Regions from separate parts of the Homo sapiens genome. Here region 1 is linked to region 2. The links come from fine-mapping of genetic effects on gene expression. A gene starts in region 2. The other region holds a variant in brackets. All regions are shown on one strand. Distances are from middle to middle.

Region 1 (8,000 bases), 77 kb after region 2:
TCTAATTATTATCTTTCCTTCCAGAAGCCAGGCTCTTGGAAGAATAGTCTATTCTGCAACCTTTCTCAGCTCTCATTCTCACCAGCTTTTGCCCCCACCACATCCTTGAAACTCATCTTTCAAAAGACACTAACTGCTAAATTCACTTCGGCTTTGTGGTTCTTTGCTTTCTTGACCTCTTTGAAGCACTTGACACTGTCAGTTATTCCTGCTTTCTTGAGACTCATGTATCTGTCTTAACTTCAGCTTCTCCAAATTTTTCTTTTTCAATCTTTGGCAGCTCCCTCTCAGATTCCTGTGGGGGCTGCTTTTGTGTGTTTTTGTGTTGATATTCTGTAGAATTTGTCCTCAGAAACAGCAAACATTTATTGAACCTTATGCTGAAGATAATGGGAAGCCATTAAAGCAAGGGTTTTTAATCAGGGTTCCAAAGATTGATATCAAGGAATCTGTGAACTACCTGAAATTACATTCAGACTTCAAAACTTAATATGTTAAGTGCTTTACATGATGCTAAGTGCTTTACACACATTATCTGTTTGGACCCACGTTGCCATCCTATGAAGTAGATTCTTCTGTTGACCCCCAACTTAAAGCTCAGGAGACTCAGGATTAGAGAAGATGAGAAACTTGCCCAAGATTGTAGTTGGTAGGTGTTGGAGTAAGGATTTAAGTGTAGGCAGTCTGACTCCAGAGCTTGTACTTCAAACTGTAATGCCACTTTGCCTTAGCAATGCATGTCCCAAGACCTCTTTTTTATTTCAGAGCCTCAAAAACTACTAAATACCTATCTTCAGCTCGGATTTCTATCCCATCAACTAAATAGCTTAGGTGCCTGTAGGCCCCTCCAGTTCAGTAAGCCAGAAATGGCTTTGTTATCTGCTTTCTTCTTCCTGCTCCTTTCCAACCCCTCTTCATGCTATTATTCTCTATTTCAGTGAATGACACCTAATTTCTTGGGAGTCTTCCTTTTCTTTTACATTCTATATGTAATTGGTTTACCAAGTTGTATTATATTTACCTCAAATCTAACGCTTTCACTTAAGGTTAGTCTGGTGGCTAATGGCATTGATTTTGGGGTCGAATTTGGAGCTAAACTCAAGCATTTCCCCTTAAAAGCAGTTGAAATTGGCAAGTTGCTCAGTGTCAAGTGGCAATAACAAATGCCTGCCTTCCAGGAGGTTGGTTAGGAGAATGGGTGAGTACAGGATTAGTTCTTTCCCTTTACTGTGTGCTTTAAACAAGGGATCAAACTTTCTTCAGGCTTAGTTTGCTCATCTGTAAAAGGATGCTGATAATAGCTAACTCATAGGGTTGTTGCAAAATTTAACTGAGATAATTTAAATGTGTGTAACATAGTGACTAGCACATGGTAAGCATTAAAAAGAAACGTAAGCTCTTAATAGCATCGCCCACTGCCACTGCTTTTATGTAGGCCTTCTCATTTTAGCCTGCCTCACTGACATAAGCTCTTCACTAATTTCCCTAATTTGTCTTACCCCTTTCCAATTCATGCTGCTACCTGAGTGAGTTTAAAAAACAAACCTGATCCCATCACTGTCTTGCTTAAAATTCTTAAAAGTAGTGATTCTTAATCATGTGTGAAAGACAGAGAGTGCAGTGAACTCACTTGATACAAAATCTATGAACTGTCTTCCCAGAAAAATGCTTTAACATACTAAGTTTTGAAGTTTGGATATAATTTCTGGTAGTTCACAGATTCCTTGATGTCATCTTTGGACCCCCAATTAAAAAACGCTTGCTCTAATGGCCTCCCATTATCCCCAGCATAAGGTCAAACTCTTTTACACAGATAAGAGAATCCAGATAAGCAGAAAGAAAAGAGGCATCTATTCATAATCCAACTATCTAGAGAAAACCATTTTCTTTTTTTAAAGTAAATAAAAATGAACTTATTAAAAAAAACCATTTATCATTTCACAACACATCAATAACCAAGTAGAAAATAAAAAAATATATAAAAGCCTGGGCAACATAGTGAGACCTCATCTCTACAAAAAATATAAAAATTAGCTAGGCATGATGGCACACACCTGTAGTCCCAGCTACTCTGGAGGCTGAGGCAGGAGGATCATTTGAGCCCAGGGTTCAAGGTGGCAGTGAGCCATTATTACACCTGTGAATAGCCACTGCACTCCAGCTTGGGCAACATAGTGAGACTCCCATCTCAAAAAAAAAAAAAAAAAAAGACAAGGAACTAATAATTAGGATATACAAGGACCTCTTGGCAAATCAAAAAATAATTTTTCAATTTTTCCATGGAAAAATGGTCAAAGATTATAAAAAAGCAAATCACAGGAGCAGAAACTCAGCTGGCTTACAAGTGTATGAAGAGATCTTCAATCTCAATTAGTAATCAGAAATGTAAATCAAAGCAAAAAAAAACATTGGCAAATATTTTTAAACATTAGATGATACCAGTTGTTGGTGAGAATATGGGAGAAACAGGAACTTCTGTGTACTGCTAAGGGGGAATGTAAACTGTTACAGTAGGACATTAGAAGCAACCAGTGTACTCGTCACTAGGGGAAAATGGTCTGTAAACATGGTAGATCCATATCATGGATTATGCTGCAAGTAACAGCCACATGGACAGATCTCTAAGGTCACCACTGAAGGAAAATTAAGAAAAAGAATAAGATCTATAATAGCCTATATCATCTTGTACTTAAAAAGCACATACATAAAGCAGTACTGTGTAACTTAATAAAAATATATACACATCTAAGATGTATCTGATATATCGGTGGGTACAAGAGGGTAAGTGGGGTGCAGAGGGAGTGGGAAAATAACTATGAAGGGGAAAGGTACTAAAATACAACGAGAAGGGCCTGGCACAGCCCATATTTGATAATGTGCTAAGAAGTCATTAGAAATTTTGAATGACTGAATTCCCTATACCTGAGGTCCCCCTTTAAAAAGCTCACCCTTCTTATAGACGAAGAAGCGAAGACACTAAGTTACAATGATATAAATTAAGCTACCAATGACAAAGTGCTCAGTCAACCTTCTGCCTTGTGTTGATAACACTAATCTGCCCTAGTTATATCTAAAGAAAAATATACTTTCATACAGATTTCACAGCTTTTCAACATCCATATATCTGGAAAGATAAGAACATTTGTATATCCTTCCATATGAGTCCTTGTGATTCGTTGAGGCCATAGGTTAAGTTTCCTTTCAGTCATTCCAAGGAGAATCAGCATGACCAAGCAAAGCAGGTTCCAAAGGCAGGAAGCAGAAGCAATATGATGCTGTGGAGGTACCTTTCTGAAACAGTCTCTTCTGCTGTTGTGGGGTCTTTGGGCAACCCTTCAATTTAAGTGCTTGGCAACAAGTCTGCTGAGATAGGCTGACCTTGTAGCTTTTGTAGTCTCTATCGTACAGCACTGGTCAGATCTACATAAGCCTCATCGATGCTGACGCATTCAATCACAGCAAAACAAGACTTCCTCCATCACTTCAACACTGGCTTCCCGGTACTTGGTGAGGTTAGCTTTCCCATGGTACTCACGAACTTGTGCCAGTAGAAGACCTGGACTTAACTTCTTTGCATCATCTGCCTACATATAGTGACCCCAAATGCAAGAGCTTCATAACTCACTGCAATTATTCTACCACCTTCCATGATTTGTACTACACAGCTGCACAAGATTTATTCCTCAAATGAGGATTTTGCCGCTGCTCCATTGGAACAAAGTCTATGTCCATGAGAGTAACCACACAATCCTGTCCAGTAGCCATTTTTCAAGGTAACAGACACCTGGCCAGACTGCCAGCAGTGGGTGCCGCAAATGCTGGGCTCGGTGCCCACTGGAAGGAAAATGGAAGAAGGGCTTTTGAATATCTTTTCGCCTTTCTGGGGAGAGTTTCGAGAGATTTATTCCCCGTGATGACAGAGGAACAGAGAAGGGGTCGTGAAGGATCCTGCCCAGGCGACCGTCCCCACAGTTCAGCAGGGATCAGCCGAGAGCAGTGTGCCCAGCAACAAAGCCACCAGACTGAGGACAGACAGCACGCACGCTGCCTAGAGAAAACCATTTTCTTTCCTCACGTTTTTTAATGCTCCTAATTAATGTGTTTTCTAGCTCCTTCTCTCACTACGTCCCAGCTTTTGCACCTTATGCTTTAACCCAATACAACTATTTTCTTTTTTTTT[T/C]GTTTTTTTTTTGTTGTTGTTTTTTGAGACGGAGTGTCACTCTGTCACCCAGGCTGGAGTGCAGTGGCGCCATTGTGGCTCACTGCAAGCTCTGCCTCCCGGGTTCACGCCATTCTCCTGCCTCAGCCTTTCGAGTAGCTGGGACTACAGGTGCCCGCCACCATGCCCGGCTAATGTTTTGTACTTTTAATAGAGGTGGGGTTTCACCGTGTTAGCCAGGATGATCTCGATCTCCTGACCTCGTGATCCGCCTGCCTCAGCCTCCCGAAGTGCTGGGATTACAGGCATGAGCCACCACGCCCGGCCAATACAACTATTTTCTATCCTCTGAAAGAGATAGGCCTATCACAGTATTTTGTTAATTGTCTATATGTATACTTCAATTTTTATTTGGCTGAAGGTGTTGATGGTATATTAATTTTTGTATATTGAGAGTTTAGAGTCTAGCTTAGTGGCTGATATATAGTACATATTCAGTAAATATTAGGCTAAATAAGTGAATTGCAAAATTCATACATGTTTGTGAAAGAAAATAAGAAAGGAGAAAGAACAAATTACCCATGGTCTCATCATCCAGATGCACCAACTGCTGACATTTATATGTCTACTGTGATCTTGTGTGTATAAATTTCTACTTTCTAGAGCTTAGCGCCTTCATAGATAATTTAGGGAAGAGAGTCATTACCCTTTCCCACTTCACATAGAGATTATGAATTTAGTGTATGCAAAATTCCTAATAATGCTGTTAAATGATTTGGCCTGGAGAATATTAACCATACTAAATTTTACTGTGTTGTGCATATGACTGGGGCTACTTTTACTTGCCTGGTACGGGAAAATTGTGTATGTGTCTGTTTACCCTTCTTTCCCTAGAACCTCATTTTGGAGGGTTGAAGAAATTCTTCATGTGATTCAACTTCATATTCCCCCACAACTTAGCTTTTTATGTGTAATCCTTCTTAATACTACTATATAAGCTAATCTGTATTTGTGGAAGAGAATAGTTGATATACTGATGGTAGTTTTCATCATAGTGCTTTCCTAAGGAGCAGACTGAAGCTCAGAGAGGTTTGTAGCTTACTAGACTCTAAACTCTAGATAGATAAAAATTAGTACACAGTGAACGCCATCAAGAAGGTGTAAGATTTCAGGGCTAGTCAGTGGCAAAATCGAGACTAGAATCCAGGTCTTTTGACTCCAACTCTTCAGTAGTTTAATGTTGTTGGCTTGTCTCTTGGGAAGAACTGGCAAAGGTTAATTGAAATGACTGGCTCTGACCTTTTTTTTTAAAACAGACTCAACTTCTAATGGAATTTCATTCTACCTTGGATTTCTCCTTTTTTTCTTTCATTTTTCCACGAAGGCTGTGTGTTTATTTTTTATTCTACTTGCAAGAAAAGAGTTCTGGGTGACTTACCCCTTGTAATGTTTCCTGGTTCCCACCCTTCTGTCTTCTACTTTGCTCTTGTCTACTTCTCAAAGGGAAAACATTTAGTGGTGAATGGGAAAGATGCCAAATAGTGAAAATTTTAATTCATGGATGTATGGCTGTGATGATTACTTTAGTTCTTTTACCTACCTCTAAGAGGAAATTCATTATTGAAATTGAGGAAGCCCATATATGTTTTATTTTCTCTTGGCTTCATTTTATTTTTAAAATTTATTTTTGCTTCATTTTTAAAATAACTTCATTTTCAAGCCTCATTGTCTGAAGGTTGAGGCTTTGAGCAAAAAAACAACACATTTAGAAATTCTAGTCCTGAAAATTGCTGAGAAATTTTAACTGTTCTCATAATAAAATAAGTAAATGAAATAATGCATATGATAATTAGCTTAATTTAGCTATTTCACAATAAATGCATATTTTAAAACATTTTGTACATGATAATATATACAATTTTTATGTTAAAATAAATGAATTTTTAAAATTTCTAGATCTTGGTTACTAATTCTCTTATCATTTAGCCATTTCTGATGGCTGCTTTTGCCCTAGATTGCATTTCTCTCTGGGAGAAAAAAATCTTAATTTCTTTATGTTCAGCAGCTTAAGGGAGATTACAGGCAGAGTCTTTGGATTTGATTTTCTTCTCTTTTGCAATTAACTTGACCTCCTCTTGACTTTAAGACAGGCTGTTAAAGCCAGCATGTTGCTTGAGGCAAGATGTTTGATATACTTTTCCTTAGCACACAGATGCTACTGGACTGTTAGCATATTGCACAAAACAGAATTAGGTTTATAAAAGAACAAATTAAAAAGTTTTCGGGGAAGTTTTTTTTTTATAGTTTACGACTTCTTTAAGAGGGAAAGCTCTTGCATAGTTAATTAAGGATTGTCTAGTAAGTTTTGACAGTTGTAAACAGAGGCTTATAAAGCTCTAACATACATGATAGAGAAAACGGGTTGTTAGACACAAAGGTCTTCTGTGTACATGGAAAGCTAATAGCTGTCAATTCTGAGACAGGAACTAGAAAATAATATCTGAAGAGTAAATGGATTTCTTACTTAAATGTTAAATTTCCATTATCTGTGCTTGCAGTTTCATCTTTTCCAAGGACCTTATGATGTGATTGCTTAATTCTGATTCTCATACTGCTGTGAAACAAAGCCAGGGCTGCCTCAAGTTAGGCCCTTAGGAGCCCGGTGGCTAGGAAAGGGAGGCAGCTTGTTTGTAGAAGGACTACATGTAGCTATTGTTTTTCTTTTCTTTTTCTTCTTCATTATTTTTCTTTTCTTCTTCTTCTTTTTTCTTTTTTTTTTTTGGTGCTTGGAAAATAAGTTTCACAATAGCAATCTGGTTTTGTATTGTTTGTTCTAAGAGAAATTTTTTTTTTCTTTTCTAGCCATGAAGATGGACCTACAGCTAAAAAATTAAAGACTGAGCAAGGGGGAGCCCACTTCAGCGTCTCCAGTCTGGCTGAAGGCAGTGTCACCTCTGTAAGCTAAGCTTTTCAAGTGCGCTTCCCCCTTTGCAGGAAGGTTGGGGCTTGAGGGAGAGTGCATCAATTTTTGTTAGTCCGTTCTTACCACTTTCAAGTTAAGATCATGATCACTTTCTCTGGTCCTTGCTCTATAGAAGCCAAAAAGACCCATTCCATACTTCTTTAAGTAATTATTATCATGAATTGCCTACAGAATTATCTATATGATATAAGGTATATAGAGCTCTTTATAGAACGTGGAACATCTCAGTGTTGAGATTTTGCTGTTGGCATTATTTTGCAGCTTTTCAACTAGTCAAAATGATAGGATAAGTGGGGGTTAGTGATACGAGCCTTAATCTTCAAGTACACACAATTTAAGTTAGTATAACTTTCCTATTTTCTAACATGCAACTTTAGAACAGGATTCACAAGTTTAGGATTTCCCCAAGAATGTATCCTTTGATACATGAGATTTTTATTGAATGAGAAATTTTTTGGAACTTGAAAATACTACCTTAATTAATTAATTAATTAATTAATTAATTTTTATATCTTGGTCAGCCAGGAGGAAGAATATTTTATTTAATTTTAGAGATAGGTTGTCACTGTCACCCACGCCGGAGTACAGTAGTGTGATTTTAGCTCACTGCAGCCTTGAAATCCTGAGCTCAAGTGGTCCTCCTGCCTCAGCCTCCTGTGTAGCTAGGACTAAGGGTACATGCCACCATACCCGGCTATTTTTCATAGAGGTGGGGTCTCAGTATGTTACTCCTGGGCTCAAGCAATCCTCCCGCTTCAGCCTCCCGAAGCACTGGGATTATAGTCATGAGTCACTGCACCCAGCCAAATAGTGCCTTGTTCTAAGCAGCATTAGTGTGAATCAACAAATCTTAAAAAT
Region 2 (15,930 bases):
TGTAGGGGGGACAAGTGTAGTTTTGTTACATGGGGCTTTTAGTGTATCCATCACCTGAATAGTGGCCACTGTACCCAACAGGTAATTTTTCAACCCTCACTCCCCTGCTTCTACCCTCCCACCTTTTAGAGTCTCCAATGTCTGTTATTCTACTCTGTATGTCCATGTGTACCCACTCTTTAGCTCCCACTTATAAGTGAGAACATGCACCATTTGACCTTGTTTCTGAATTATTTTAGTTAGGATAAAGGCCTCCAGTTCTATCCATGTTCCTGCAAAAGACAAGATTTCATTCTTTTTCATGGCTGAGTAGTATTCCATGGTATATATAACATATTTTCTTTATCCAATCATCCACTGATGGACACTTAGGTTGATTCTTAACTTGCTACTATGAATAGTGCTGTGATAAACATACTAGAGCAGGTGTCTTCTTCATATAGTGATTTATTTTCCTTTGTAAACACCCAGTAGTGGGTTTGCTGAATTGAATGGCAATTCTATTTTTAATTCTTTGAGAAATCTCCATACTGTTTTCCATAGAGCTTGTACAAAATAAGACAATTTTAAAAACTATGTTTAAAGTTTAGGTTATAATTTAGTAAACTAAAAATGGTAACAACTTTTGGAAATTCTCGTGTGCAATCTGAGGGTTTTATAAAGCAAAAATTGGAAAGATTCACCATAAGTTCCTTGTAAGCCTTGCCTAACTTTAAAATGGAATTTAATTTATCAAAATATATAATGTGCAACAAAAACATACGTTATACTGTTAGGAGAAGCTTACTCCTTTCTCCTTTTGTTTCCAGGAGGGCCCTCTTCTTCCAGCAGGAAAAATAACTGAAACACAGTCACACACCCCATAACAATGTTTTGGTCAATGATAGACCACATGTATGGCAGTGGCCTCATAAGATTAAAGTGGAAGTTAAACATTCTTATCATCCAGTGGTGCTGTAGCCACTGTAATGTCATAGCTGCAATTACTTTATTTTTTTATAAATTTAGTTTAGCCTGTGTGTACAGTGTTTATAAATTCTACAATAGTAAACAATAATGTCTTAGGCCTTCACATTCACTTATCACTCCCTCACTAACTCACCCAGAGCAACTTCCAGTCCCGTAAGCTCCTGTGTCCTATACAGTGCTCTATACAGGTGTACCATTTTTTATATTTTATACCATATTTTTACTATATCTTTTATTTTTATTATATCTTTTGTATGTTTTTATATAATTTTATAATAAAAATACCATATTTTTATTATATCTTTTGTATGTTTAGATATGTTTAGACCACAGATATTTACCTTTGTGTTACTATTTCCTGCAGCCTTCAGCATAGTAACCTCCCGTACAGGTTTGGAGCCTAGAAGCAATAGGCTATTGACCATATAAACCATGTATATAGTAGGCTATACCATCTAGGTTTGCCTACCACTCTATGATGTTCACACTATGATGAAATCACTTAAGGATGTATTTCTCAGAAGATTTCCCTGTGTTAAGTGACACATGACTGTATATACTTCTAGACTAATCCAACACTCAGTTAGGTTTCTGTCACTTAGGAGAAATAGCTGAGCTTATCAGTGAGATGGAAAGGAGAGAAATAAGCACCCCAGGACAAGCCACCACTTCCTCCACCCACTTCTTTCTTTGATATTTCTGCCTTCAACATACACATTTTTTGCTCTAGTTCCCAGAGTAGGGCATAGGCTCTATAGGGCAGGGATGAAAAACTTTACCTAGGCTGGGTGCAGTGGCTCATGCCTGTAATCCCAACACTTTGGGAGGCCAAGGCCGGTGGATCGCTTGTATTCAGGACTTCAAGACCAGCCTGGGCATCATGGTGAAACCCCACCTCTACTAAAAATACAAAAAAATTAGCTGAGCATGGAGGCACACGCCTGTAATCCCAGCTACTCAGGAGACTAAGCCACGAGAATTGCTTGAACCTGGGGGCAGAGGTTGCAGTGAGGCAAGATTGTGCCTGGGTGACAGAGTGAGACTGTGTCAAGAAAGAAAGAAAAAGAAAGAAAAGAAAGAAAAGAAAGAAAGAGAGAGAGAAAGAAAGAAAAAAAGGAAGGAAGGAAGGAAGGAAGGAAGGAAGGAAGGAAGGAAGGAAGAAAGGAAGGAAGGAAGGAAGAGAGAGAGAGAGAAAACAAGAACACCAAGGTGATTAATGCCTAACTTTGTCCAAGACCTCGAGTAAAAAATATGTTGAGAATATAAATAGGATGATTCACATGGATTATCTAAATAGAAGTTTACTAAATTATAACTAGTTACTATCTGAAACCTCAAGACTTCAGGACAGTTGTCTACTACAAGTAAAGATGCACTGAAATACAACTTTACAAGTCCATTTACTTTCACTGCTAGAACTTTCCACTATAGACAAACTTGAACTAGGGTGCAAACATATTACAGGGAAAAACAATGCAATGCTGGGTAAAATAAAAACCTAAATGGCCATTCAGGAAATGGTTAAATAAGTTATTACAGACCCACACAATGGAATACTATGCAGCTTTAAAATGAATGAGATATGACTACAATACTACCATTGAAAAACACAAGATATGGGCCAGGCATGGTGACTCATGCTTGTAATCCCAGCAATTTGGGAGGCTAAGGTTGGAGAGTCGCTTGTGGTGAGTTCAAGACCATCCTGGATGAGACCTTGTCTCTAAAAAAATTTTTTTATTGCCAAACATTGTGGCACATGCCTATAGTTTAGATACTTGGGAGGTTGAGGCAGGAGAATCATTTCAGACAGGAGTTCGAGGCTGCAGTGAGCTATGATGACACTACTGTACTCTAGCCTGGGTGACAGAGCAAGATCCTGTCTCTAAAAAACAAAACAAAACAAAGAAAAAACAAGATATTTAAGTAGGAAAAAAAACCATTACAGAGCAGTAAGAATACTGTGATCCCAATTTTGTAGAAAACAAAATATATATACGTGTGTATACATGTGCACATTAAATTTGTAGAAAATCACCAGGAAGGGAATTTAGAAAAAGGGCAGAATGGGTAAAGCTCATTTTTTTCTTTTATACACTTCTATACTGTTTTAATTTATTGCAAACCTCTTATGCTACCTTATAATAAACTAGAAAAATATTATATATAATCCTTGCCTTTCATGCTAAATCATTTCAATAGACTTTATTTTTGTTTATATGTAGCTAGAGAGATGCAGAAAGCTCAACTGACCTGCTTAGAATAGGTATAGAAGTAGCTTGTGGATAAGGAGTTCTTTCAACATCAGAGGCTTGTAGCCCCAGTATGCTGCGTTCCTGCTTAGGCTGATACTGATCCCTTTCCATCTTCAACTCAGAATACTACATTTATTCAGCACCTTCTTGGTCCCTGGTGTTGGTAACAGGCTAGTTAGACTAGACTAGAGCAAGAAAAAATGTTGTCTTGGGTCATAATTTCCACCGGCATTTCCTAATTGCATTTTATCTACTATACCTAATTTATGTTCTACTGTAGTAACAGAAAGTGAATGATTAACTTGAAGATAAAAAAACATCTGATATGAATTCAACTTGACGATGCTAGGTTTTCCTTGATGAAATCAGGTTTCTCTCTGCCTAACAGCACCTGTCAAAGGTATAAAGGAGATCTAATTCTGCCTACAATATCCTGCTTTTGTGAGCTAAAGCTTTCTGTGTCCTCTCAGAAAAAGGAAAAGTCAAAATCCTGTGGAAGTGAAAGACATTGTTATATAAACCCAAATTGAGCAAAAAAGAAAATGTTAGCCAATTTTTTTCTTCTCTTTTCTTTTGAGATGGAATCTCACTCTGTCACCCAGGCCAGATTGCAGTGGCGTGATCTCGGCTCACTGCAACCTCCGCCTTCAGAGTTCAAGCAATTCTCATGTGTCAGCCTCCCAAGTAGCTGGGACTACAAGCATGTGCCATGCCACCACATGTGCCACAATGTTTGGAAACAGAGTCAAGCAAAGATTTTCATGCAAGGATGTAGTCTTGAGAAGTGAAAAAATGGAAATTACCTAAAAATTCAATATGAGGGAAATAGTTAAATCAATAACAATGAAATATACATGCTTCCATTTAAATATCTTGCTATTGTTCCTGGTGCAGTGGCTCACGCCTGTAATTCCAGCACTTTGGGAGGCCGAGGCCGGCAGATAACTTGAGGTCAGGAGTTCGAGACCAGCCTGGCCAACATAGTAAAACTCCATCTCTACTAAAAACACAAAAATTAGCCAGGCATGGTGGCACACACCTGTAGTCCCAGCTACGTGGCAGGCTGAGGCACAAGAATCACTTGAACCTGGGAGGCAGAGGTTGCAGTGAGCTGCTGTCAAGCCACTGCACTCCAGCCTGGGCAACAAAGCAAGATTCCATCTCAATAAATAAATAAATATCTTGCTATTGAAGACTTACTTGGAGAAATGCATACCATATTATTGGGAAAAATAGAATTCTAAACCTAACAGCATTCCAATTTTACTTTTTTTTTTTTTTTTGAGATGGAGTTTCGCTCTTGTTGCCCAGGCTGGAGTGCAATGGCACCATCTCAGCTCACTGCAACCTCTGCCTCCCGGGTTCAGCGATTCTCCTGCCTCAGCCTCCGAGTAATTGGGATTACACGCACGCACCACCTCGCCTGGCTAATTTTGTATTTTTAGTAGAGATGGGGTTTCTATATGTTGGTCAGGCTGATCTCGAACTCCCAACCTCAGGTGGCCGCCCACCTCGGCCTCCCAAAGTGCTGGGATTACAGGCATGAGCCACCGCGCCTGGCCCAATTTTACTTTTAATAAAAAATATTTGCCGGGGTGCCGAGGCTCACGCCTGTAATCCCAGCACTTTGGGAGGCCAAGGCAGGCGGAGCACAAGGTCAAGAGATCGAGACCATCCTGGCTAACACGGTGAAACCCCCGTCTCTACTAAAAATACAAAAACTTAGCCGGGTGTGGTGGTGGGTGCCTGTAGTCCCAGCTACTAGGGAGGCTGAGGCAGGAGAATGGCTTGAACCCGGGAGGCGGAGCTTGCAGTGAGCCAAGATCGCGCCACCGCACTCCAGCCTGGGTGACAGAGCAAGACCTCCATCTCAAAAAAAAATACATGCAGGGCCGGGTGCAGTGGCTCACGCCTGTAATCCCAGCACTTTGGGAGGCTGAGGCGGGCAGAGCACAAGGTCAAGAGTTCGAGACTAGCCTGGGCAAACATGGTGAAACCTTGTCTCTACTAAGAATACAAAAATTAGCCAGGCATGGTGGCATGTGCCTGTAATCCCAGCTACTCAGGAGGCTGAGGCAGAAGAATCGCTTGAACCTGGGAGGCAGAGGTTGCAGTGAGCCAAGATCGTGCCACTGTACTCCAGCCTGGGCTACAGAGCAAGACTCCGTCTCAAAAAAAAAAAAAAAAAAAATATGGATTATACATGCAAAAATGGACTGGAAGGAAGTTTGTAAGATTTTTAGCCATTTTTCTGAAAATAATGTTAATTATGAGTAATTAAAATTGTCTTCGTCTTTTAAATATTTTTTAATGAACATCTAAATTATCTTTGGTTACCATCTGGCATAGTATGAAGTAAAAAAGAAAACACCTGTATTTTTCGTTAAAAAAAAAAAAAAGCAAAAATATCATCATTTTAAAAACCATGCCTCAAAGTTCATGCCAAAAAGACATAGTTCACACCAAAAAACCAAAACCAAAAACAAAAAACAGTGGCCTTCTGACTAGAAAGAAAACTGGAGGCTAGGCGCGGGGCCTCCATGCCTGTAATCCTAGCACTTAGGGAGGCTGAGGCGGGCAGATCACTGGAGGTCCGAGTTCAAGACCAGCCTGGCCAACATGCCAAAACCCCATCTCTAGTAAAAATATGACAATGTCGTGGAAATAGCCATTGATTCTGGCATAAAAAAATAAAGAGGAAAAAGTAATTATAAAAATGATTTTTATGGCCAGGCCCGGTGGCTCACAGCACTTTGGGAGGTCAAGGGGGATGGATCATAAGGTCAGGAGTTCAAGACCAGCCTGGCCAACGTGGTAAAACCCCGTCTCTATTAAAAATACTGCTCAGGAGGCTGAGGCAGAGAATTGCTTGAACCTGGGAGGTGGAGGTTGCAGTGAGCCGAGATTGCGCCACTGTACTCCAGCCTGGGCGACAGAGCGAAACTCCATCTCAAAAAAAAAAAAAAAGAAAAAGATTTTTAATATTCTTTCACTGAAGGAAATCCATTTCCAATACAACAAAATAATTGTGTATATATATTTTTAAGTATATGATGTCTTTTTCTCAAAAGACACGCCACCACTTTCATCAGAATCTCAGACAGATTCATGTCTTCCAAAAGATTACAAGACCAATGTCCTAATGTTTTAGTTTGTGGTAAGAAAAATATAGTCTATCACCTTATTCCAGGGGTGTAGTTTTTGGCCAATGCATATTTATGCAACAGGATGAAAGTTCAAATAGCACACTTATGCAACAGGATGAAAGTTCAAATAGCACACTTATGCAACAGGATGAAAGTTCAAATACATAAAAATCTATTAAAAATCCTTCAAAGTGGACTAGGGTCCTACGAATCTGCTGAGAAGCCTAGTATCTGACCTATGCATGAATTGATAACTGATTCTGATTTTCTTACAGATATTCCTGAAAGAGGATAGAGCTTGGTGTTGAGAATAAACTGGGCAGTAATGGTGATGAGGTTACATCATGGCCTTACTAGGAAATGTTTTTGCTTTTTTTTTTTTTTTTAACTAAAAACATAGATTTTTTTTTTTTAGTTCATACTGTGCCAGATGTTGGAAACACAGTCGTAACCAAAGATAATTTAGATGTTCATTAAAAAATATTTAAAAGACGAAGACAATTTTAATTACTCATAATTAACATTATTTTCAGAAAAATGGCTAAAAATCTTATAAACTTCCTTCCAGTCCATTTTTGCATATGTAATACTTTTTTTTTTTTTTGATACTGAGTCTTGCTCTGTCGCCCAGGCTGGAGTGCAGCGGCACGATCTTGGCTCACTGAAACCTCTGCCTCCCGGGTTCACGCCATTCTCCTGCCTCAGCCTCCTGAGTAGCTGGGATTACAGGCACACGCCACCATGCCTGGCTAATTTTTGTATTCTTAGTAGAGACGAGGTTTCACCATGTTTTCCCAGGCTAGTCTCGAACTCTTGACCTTGTGCTCTGCCCGCCTCGGCCTCCCAAAGTGCTGGGATTACAGGCATGAGCCACCGTGCCCGGCCCTGCATGTATATATTTTATTAAAAGTAAAATTGGGCCGGGCACGGTGGCTTACGCCTGTAATCCCAGTACTTTGGGAGGCCGAGGCGGGCGGATCACCTGAGGTCGGGAGTTGGAGACCAGCCTGACCAACATATAGAAACCCCATCTCTACTAAAAATACAAAATTAGCCTAGCAAGGTAGTGCGTGCCTGTAATCCCAACTACTCGGGAGGCTGAGGCAGGAGAATCGCTTGAACCCAGGAGGCGGAGGTTGCAGTGAGCCAAGATGGCGCCACTGCACTCCAGCCTGGGCAACAAGAGCGAAACTCCATCTCAAAAAAAAAAAAAAAGTAAAATTGGAATGCTATTAGGTTTAGAATTCTACTTTTCCCAATAATATGGTATGCATTTCTCCAAGTAAGTCTTCAATAGCAAGATATTTATTTATTTATTGAGATGGAATCTCGCTCTGTTGCCCAGGCTGGAGTGCAGTGGCTTGACGTCAGCTCATTGCAACCTCTGCCTCCCAGGTTCAAGCGATTCTTGCGCCTCAACCTCCCAAGTAGCTGGGACTACAGGTGTACGCCACCATGCCTGGTTTGTATTTTTAGTAGAAATGGAGTTTCACCATGTTGGCCAGGCTGGTCTCAAACTCCTGACCTCAGGTTATCTGCCCGCCTCGGCCTCTCAAAGTGCTGGAATTACAGGCGTGAGCCACTGCGCCAGGACCAATAGCAAGATATTTAAACGGAAGCATTATATTTCATTGTTATTGATTTAACTATTTTCCTTATATTGGATTTTTAGGTAATTTCCATTTTTTCACTACTCAAGACTACATCCTTGCATGAAAATCTTTGCTTGACTCCGTTTCCTTAAATTCCTGAAAAAGGAATTACTGTCATAGAGCATAAACATTGTGAAGGTTTTTGGATCTTTTTTTCCAAATTGCCTTCCAGAAAGTTTGTAATAATTTACATTCCTGCCTTCTCATTCCTGCATCAACACTTTAATTTTTCCCAACATTTCAAAATTTTGTTAGAAAAGTTAAATCTTACTGTTTCATATTTTATTACCAATAAAGTTGATTATTTTTTCATATGTTTCTTGCCTGTCTGTAGTTCTTCTTTTGGAACGCTTAGTCCATACCATTAGTCTAATTTTTCTATCAGTGTGTTGGATTTTTTCTTTATTTGTAAGAGCTCTTTATGTATAAGGCTGTTGGCCGAATCTAGTGGCTCAGCCTGTAATCCCAAAACTTTAGGACTCAGAGGCAAGGCAGGAGGATCCCTTGAACCCAGGTGTTCGAGACCAGCGTAGGCAACAGAGTGAGACCCTATCTCAAAACCAACAAACAATTTATCTTATGTTGCAAATATTTTTCTTCATATGCCTTTAAACTTTATATATTTTTTTAATTCAATGAGGATTTACACTTTCATACAGGTAGATTGATTTATGTTCTCCTTTGTGGTTTATTCCCTCACTTATGTGTTTACAAAGGCCTTCCTTCACCCAAGTTAAGGTAAATATTCAGCATATTTCCTTGCTGTGGTTAAGAGATGTGAGAAGATACTATGAGAGACTCACTATGTTCACAACTTTTTCCAGTTAAATGAAGTCTTCCCACGTTTCCTAATCACTCACATTAAGCATATAGAATGGATTAATTTTAAATCTGAATATAAAACTAATTGCACAGCATGTTTCACTGCTCTTCTTACTGCCTACCTGGGGCACAGTCTCTTTGGCCTGAGTGGTCTCTTCAGTTTTTAACGAGTGGCTCCACAATTCCTTAGGAAGAGCTGCTCTCTTCTGTCTCCCTGGTGGTCGTAATTTCGCCCACACCTGCCCCGTCTTTGCTCTGCAGCTCCACACTCCCTCAGCCCCGCCGAGAGCTCCTGGCTCCCGTCTCCAGGTTACCCCAGGTCACCACAGCCACCTCTCTGCACCAGCGGCCCGCTCACGTACCCAGCTCCAGGAGCTCCTTCACGATGGCTTTTCCGATGCCCGTGGCCCCGCCGGTGACGATGGCCACTTGGCCCTGCAGCAAACCAGGCGCCAGGTAGCTCCTGCCCTTAGCCCAGGAGGCCATCCCTGCAGCGGGGTGCCAGAGCAGCTGAGCGCAGGCCCTTCTGGGTCTCAGGGACATTCGAGGCGGGCGGGCGGACAGGGCGGTGCTCGAGCCCACGTGACCACCAGAACCCCGCACCCTCCCCGGCCCGGCCCCGCCCCGCCCGCCGGCCGCGGCAAAGCCGCATCCTCCCGGAGCAGAACCGCTCCCCGCCGGCTGTCCGCAACCTCCGCCAGCGTCGGTCCCTGGGCAGGTGTGGGTGAGACTGCTCGTTCGTTTCTTTAAATTTCGATGCCATTGGGGAGGGTGGAAGGGAAATGCAAAAAAAAAAAAAGAAGAAGAAAGAAACAAGCAGGGTGTGCTCTATTTCAAAAATTCAATCCTCAGGGCTGAAGCTCTCACGATTAATTAAAATTAAATCTCCAGTGCAGCTGGAAAAAGAAAGGCTGCTGCTCGGCGCCCTCGCTGCGCCCGCCTGCCGGGGTCGGACGTCGGCGATGCTGTGGCTCCAGGTGCTGTGTGCCGCTGGCTGGGAAGGGGAGAAAGGGCAGGCTTAGCTGAGGGGGAGAAATGCGGCTTTCAGATCCTTTCATCCTTCGGGAGGGAGCCCGGGAAAGAGAGTGAAGGGGAAGAGGAGATGCGGTTGCAGTTTTCCACAGAACCAAGAGAATAAACGATTTGAAAAAATAAACTCAGGCCCACCTCCGTCTCACCTCCCACTCCCCACCCAAGAATCAAGGGGAAAGATCATCTTTACCAGGTTTGAGACCTGATCCATTTCAGCTGAGCTGCATAGCGAGTCCAGAAGAGGATCTTTCCTTGAAGGGTGCACGCTTCCTGCAAGATGCATCTGTAGGTGTTTGAGATCATGTCCTGTAGTTCATTCCTTGTGCAGGAGGGTGAGCCCGCTGAGGATGGGGAAAATTTCTCGTCTGTGTTATGGTGCCCAGTAACAGTGATTTATTATTCAGATCTGCTCCTTATTTTTCATCTTGCTTCCCGCTCTGAACCCACCAGAGTGAGATTACACCTGGACTGGCCTACTGAGACTTCACCCTAAGAACTTGGTCGAATGTGCCAGTTGCTGTGGTCTTAACAATCCAGATGGGATGCTATTTCTAAGGCTGTTGTCAGAGTGTTGCATTTTCCCCGGACAGGTATTAAAATAATATAAAGGCAAATAAATGCCATCATCCTTTTGTTGGACCTACCACCTAGGATTCACAAAGCCAATTGGAAATGGGTCTGGTTGACAGAGGAATCAGACCATCACTTCCTCCACCAGGTCCCACCCACCAGCGAGGCTGCAGTTCTTGTTGGACAGCTACACTTCCCTGTTGCTCCATCCTCTTGTCCTTCTCTGATCTCTTTTTAGAATCACTTCTCCCTCTATCTTTGTTGCTGACAGATTCAAATCTACACTCGTTAAAGAAAGGAATAAATCTCCTGGTTACCATTTGCTAGATAGTTTATCCAGGAATCACTTAACTCTACTACTTAAGTCAATTCTGTAGTTAGGACCAAATTTTTAAAATTACAACGCCATCACCTCCTTTAAAACAAAGTAAATTCAAACAGGAAAGCTCAAAGTGTTGTTGCAGAAACATATAACTCCTCTTGGTTTGATCCCAATGACAAGGTGTTTTTTTTTAAGGAAAAGAAATATTGATTCAGTTCTGAGGGGTATCTTATTCAAGAGAAGTCCAGACTTTCTTTCTTGTGGGTGGGGACACTTTAAATTCTTTTAAATGATAACTTTATTGAAGATATAACTTAACATGATTTATGCCCTGGTCTGGACCTATAGATTCTTAGAGGTGTGCCAGGGTGGGTCAGTGGGAAGCTGGCTGTGCTGCAGCTTCCGTGTGGCTGCTGAGCGGACTGAGAGTGGGATTCTGATGTCTTCCAGTGAAACAGGGACTGGGGCCTGCAAACCGGTTATGCCTACTGAGGATGACAAGGTGCCATTCCTCAGCTGCAAGGAAGTTGCAGGATGAACAGTCAGAAGGCGATTTTTCATGATCCAGGCAGAACCTGCAATTAAGAGAGCTTTGGGGTCTCTTCAAGCGATCTTTTGTTTAAAATTAGGAGGCATGATCTCTTTGCCTCTGCCTCTGACCTCTGTCAGGGTTTGAAAGTCCACTAATCCGCTAAGTTCCAGGCCAAAAGGCCTGGAAGCAGAGCAATAGATCTGCTGCTTGGAAGCTCTTTGTTTTGAAATTTTAGTTCTGCCTCTGGTTGAGGCATCTCTTCCGAAGGCAACCACGCCATGCTGCACTGACCACTCCTTTGGTTGAATCAAATGCTGCTCTTCCCTGTGCTCTGCGTCACTGCCCTCTTTGTCCTGGGGAAAAAGGCATTCCTGTGGCCAAGGTCCTCCCACACCCCCGAACCTCTCCCCACAGCTCTGTCATACCCCATTAGCAATGACTGCCTTCAGCTTCCCACCCCTCCCCCACCCCATCTGCCTGGTAACTTTATTTTCTCCCCTCTGCAAAGCAGCTGCTAGCTCAGACTGACAGGGGCTTGTGGGATTCTCGACATTTAGACTCCCAGAATCTCAGTGCTGAGAGAATGTCAGTGAAGCATCTGGTCCTGCCCCTACCTTGAAGCAAAACTACCTAGCAATTGTGCCATAACAAGGCATATAAAGGAGCTTATTGATGTCTTTTTATTAAACTTCTCCTTAGTCTCAGGCTTTCACAAAAAATAAGCTACTCCTGAGTTGCTACCACTTCACCCAGTCACTTAAAAAGATTTATCGAGCATCTATTTGTTGGCCTACTTCTATGGTACCACTTCATAGGGCTTGAAGTCTAGTAGAAGAGCTATGCAATAAATAAGTAAAAGAAAAATAAATAATGACAAATGTTGGTAAGCCTTACACAGGAAACAAGCTGTTGTGATAAAGAATAATGAGAGGCAGAGCAGGGAGTCAAGTTTTTAGTTCGGGTGTCAAGAAGGGCTCAGAGGAGGAAACATTTGAACAAGGACTCAAAAAAACAAAAACGGGCACAGGAAGAGGCGGGGTGGAGCAGCAGAGCAGCAAGATAGACAGCAGTTAAGAAGACCTCAAGCATTTGGAAGCATTTGGTGCTCTTGAGGAAGAAATACACAGCCAGTGTGATTGGAGCATAGTACCCCTACTATGGTGGTACAGATGGGGTGGCAGGATGGGGAGGTCCTTAGGCCACATGGACTTCCACATGTATAACAGTAGGAAGTTACAGGAGGATTTTAAGCAGAAAACAGCCTGATTTTCTTTTTTATTTTTATTTATTTATTTGACATGGAGTCTGGCTCTGTATCCCAGGCTGGAGTGCAGTGGCAGCGATCTCGGCTCACTGCAGCCTCTGCCTCCCAGGTTCAAACAATTCTCCTGCCTCAGCCTTCCGAGAAGCTGAGACGACAGGTGCGCGCTGCCACGCCTGACCATCTGATTTTCTTTATGTTTTAAAAAGATGTTTCTGGCTGGGTGGCTCATGCCTGGAATCCCAGCACTTTGGGAGGTGAAACCCCATCTCTACTAAAAATACAAAAATTAGCCGGGTGTGGTGGCACACGCCTGTAATCTCATCTACTCGGTAGGAGAATCAGGTGGGGGAGGTGGGGGTTGCAGGAAGCTGAGATTGTGCCACTGCAGTCCAGCCTGGGTGACAGAGTGAGACTCTGTCTCAAAAAATTAAAAAAATTAAGTAAAAGATGTTGCTTACTGCTGAGTGAGGAATTGATTGGAAGGCAGCAAGAGTGGAAGCTGGAAGATAGGAGCATTTTTTTTAGAACCACAGTTAAGAGACAGTGGCCTCCTAGACCAGAGGGGAAGCAGTGGAGATGGGAAAGTTGGGTGGATGAATTTAAGAATTATCTGGGCCGGGAGCAGTGGCTCACGCCTGTAATCCCAGCACTTTGGGAGGCCAAGGCGGGCGGATCACCTGAGGTTGGGAGTTCGAGACCAGCCTGACCAACATGGAGAAACCCCTTCTCTACTAAAAAATACAAAATTAACTGGGCATGGTTGTGCATGCCTGTAATCCCAGCTTCTCAGAAGGCTGAGGCAGGAGAATCGCTTAAACCCAGGAGGCAGAAGTTGTGGTGAGCTGAGATCACGCCATTGCACTCCAGCCAAGGCAACAAGAGTGAAACTCCATCTCAAAAAAAAAAAACAAAAACAAAAAAAGAATTATCTGGATAATTTTTTTCAAGAGTGGCTTAAAAGCAGTTATTCTAAGCACGAGTTCCAGAGTATGAGCATGTTCTTAAAAACCTGTTTTCCCTCCTACAATGACCAAGAGTACAGAGCTAATGGTTGATTGAAGCTAACACTCTGTAATATCACATTTGTAAGAATCTTTTTTTTTTTCTGAGGCAGAGTCTCACTCTGTTGCCCCGGCTGGAGTGCGGTGGTGTGATCTTGGCTCACTGCAACCTCTGCCTCCCGGGTTCAAGCGATTCTCCTACCTCAGCCTCCGGAGTAGCTGAGATTACAGGTGTGTGCCACCATGCCTGGCTAATTTTTGTATTTTTAGTAGAGGGGGTTTCACCATGTTGGCCAAGTTGGTCTCAAACTCCTGATCTCAAGTGATCCACCTGCCTCGGCCTCCCTAAGTGCTGGAATTACAGGCATGAGCCACCGTGACCAGCCTGTTAATAATCTTTAGACTGGAAGTGGAAGTGGAAGATGGGCACAGCTTAACTGCCAGAGAAAAGAACAAAGTCCTCTCTCTTCTCTCAAGTCTATTGATTAAAGCCTTGGAAATTGGGTAAAATTTTCTTTTAACCTCTCTCTTGTGAAATCTAAAAGGAAGGAGAAATGTTTAGAACCTGCTTCTCAGATCAAATACTTACAGCATAATAAAGTATACAAAAATGGGGAAGAGAATCAAGCCTTTCTTTCTTAACAGTTGTTTATGTCATATTTCTGGTAAGACATTTTCTCTTCTGTGTCCTATGAAGTCAACAAGTACATACTGACTTTGTACTACATGTCCAGCCCTGGGGTTTTCCCATTGGTGGTTAAGAAGAAGAGTAAGACAGTTCCTAAACTCTAGAAGTTTGTTATCTACCTAGAAAGATGAATGAAAACTCATGATGCCATCTATAATCTATACAATGATATGAAATGCTGCATAATTAAGTATTAAGTGTATGGTTCAGATGGCAAATGCTATTAAATTACAAATAGAAGGAGGCAAAAGAAAGGGAATAGAAACTAATATTTATGAAGTGTCAGTCACATATTAGGCATTTTATACTGGGCCATTCATTGAATTCTCACCACACACCTGCAACACAGGGTTAGGGTGGGAGGAGAGGACGTGGGGGCTGGGGTAGTCACAGAAGGGGACGTGAGCGAATGAGTCTGTCTTGAGCCAGGCTTGAAAGATGTGGAGAAGCGTGACAAAGATGAAGAAACCAACATAAGCACATGTGTTGAGTAGTCACGTTGCAGGAAAGGGAAGGGGAAAATTGCTACTGAATCCTAGGGTGGGGTGCAAATACGGAGAGCCTCAAACACCAGACAGGCCTTCAGATATATTTTAGTCAGTAATGGCAAGACAAAATAAAAATATTGTTTTGTTTTGTTTATTAATCACCATTAATATGGTAAAAAATGGTAGAGGAATGTCTTCCATTTTAGAATGTCTTCCAGTTTAGAGGAAGTAGTATGAAGGCTGTATTCTGGCATATGGTGGTAGTAGAAATTCAAATGAACAAATTAACAAAAAGATTTCATAGGAATGACTAGCAGGACTTAGAGACTAATTATTATTAGGTATATGGAAATATGTCCTTAATATAGGAAATGGGTTCATCAAAGAACATTCTAGAAGTTTATAGATCTTTGCATAAATGTTGGCGGGTAGTATGGCACAATGAAAATAACATGGGCTTTGAAATTAGCAAACCTGGGTGTCAGTTCCAGTCCCACCACTATACTAGCTATGTAAGCTTGAGCAAATTTCTCCTCTAAATGGGAATAATAAAGGTACCTACTTCACTGGTTTGCTGTGAATATTGAACAATACGATTATTGTAAAGTACTTAGAGCAGCACTTGGCACACAATAAACATCCAATAAGTTTCTGTTGTTACTATTATTCAGTCCAAGTGTCCTCTTCTGCAAAATAATACTTGCTTCATAAAATTGTTGTACCTAGGCTGGTATGGTGGCTCACACCTGTAATCCCAGCACTTTGGGAGGCCGAGGCAGATGGATCACTTGAGGTCAGGAGTTGGAGACTAGCCTGGCCAACATGGTGAAACCCTGTCTGTACTAAAAGTACAAAAATTAATTGCACATGGTGGTGTATGCCTGTGGTCCCAGCTACTCAGGAGGCAGAGGCACGAAAATCGCTTGAACCTGGAGGCTGAGGTTGCAGTGAGCTGACATTGCACAACTGCACTCCAGCCTGGGTGACCAAGCGAGACTCTGTCTCAAAAAAAAAAAAAACAAACAGGCCGGGTGCAGTGGCTCACGCCTGTAATCCCAGCACTTTGGGAGACCGAGGCGGGCAGATCACAAGGTCAGGAGATCGAGACCATCCTGGCTAACACGGTGAAACCCCGTCTCTACTAAAAAAGAAATACAAAAAATTAGCCGGGCGTGGTGGTGGGCGCCTG

Evidence for each region. PIP is the estimated chance that this variant, and not a neighbour inherited with it, causes the effect.
Region 1: its variant is the best candidate, but not a certain one, in a credible set for the expression of TMEM169 in whole blood (TOPMed, PIP 0.66).

What each region holds. Positions count from the first base shown.
Region 1 is chr2:216,153,047-216,161,046 of GRCh38, forward strand. XRCC5 (X-ray repair cross complementing 5) reads left to right here. Exons shown (of 21, transcript NM_021141.4): 15 at 7,022-7,115. It also overlaps the pseudogene POLHP1. Among named protein-coding and RNA genes, the nearest start is that of XRCC5, 48 kb to the left of the region's middle. RefSeq lists an enhancer at 3,191-4,390. The variant T/C (reference allele first, on the strand shown) is at 4,181.
Region 2 is chr2:216,072,412-216,088,341 of GRCh38, forward strand. TMEM169 (transmembrane protein 169) reads left to right here and starts at 9,508. Exons shown (of 3, transcript NM_001142311.2): 1 at 9,508-9,568. It overlaps PECR (peroxisomal trans-2-enoyl-CoA reductase), which reads right to left and starts at 9,398. Exons shown (of 8, transcript NM_018441.6): 1 at 9,207-9,398. The coding sequence starts at 9,330. RefSeq lists enhancers at 9,000-9,079, 9,110-9,159, 12,284-12,353 and a silencer at 9,350-9,609.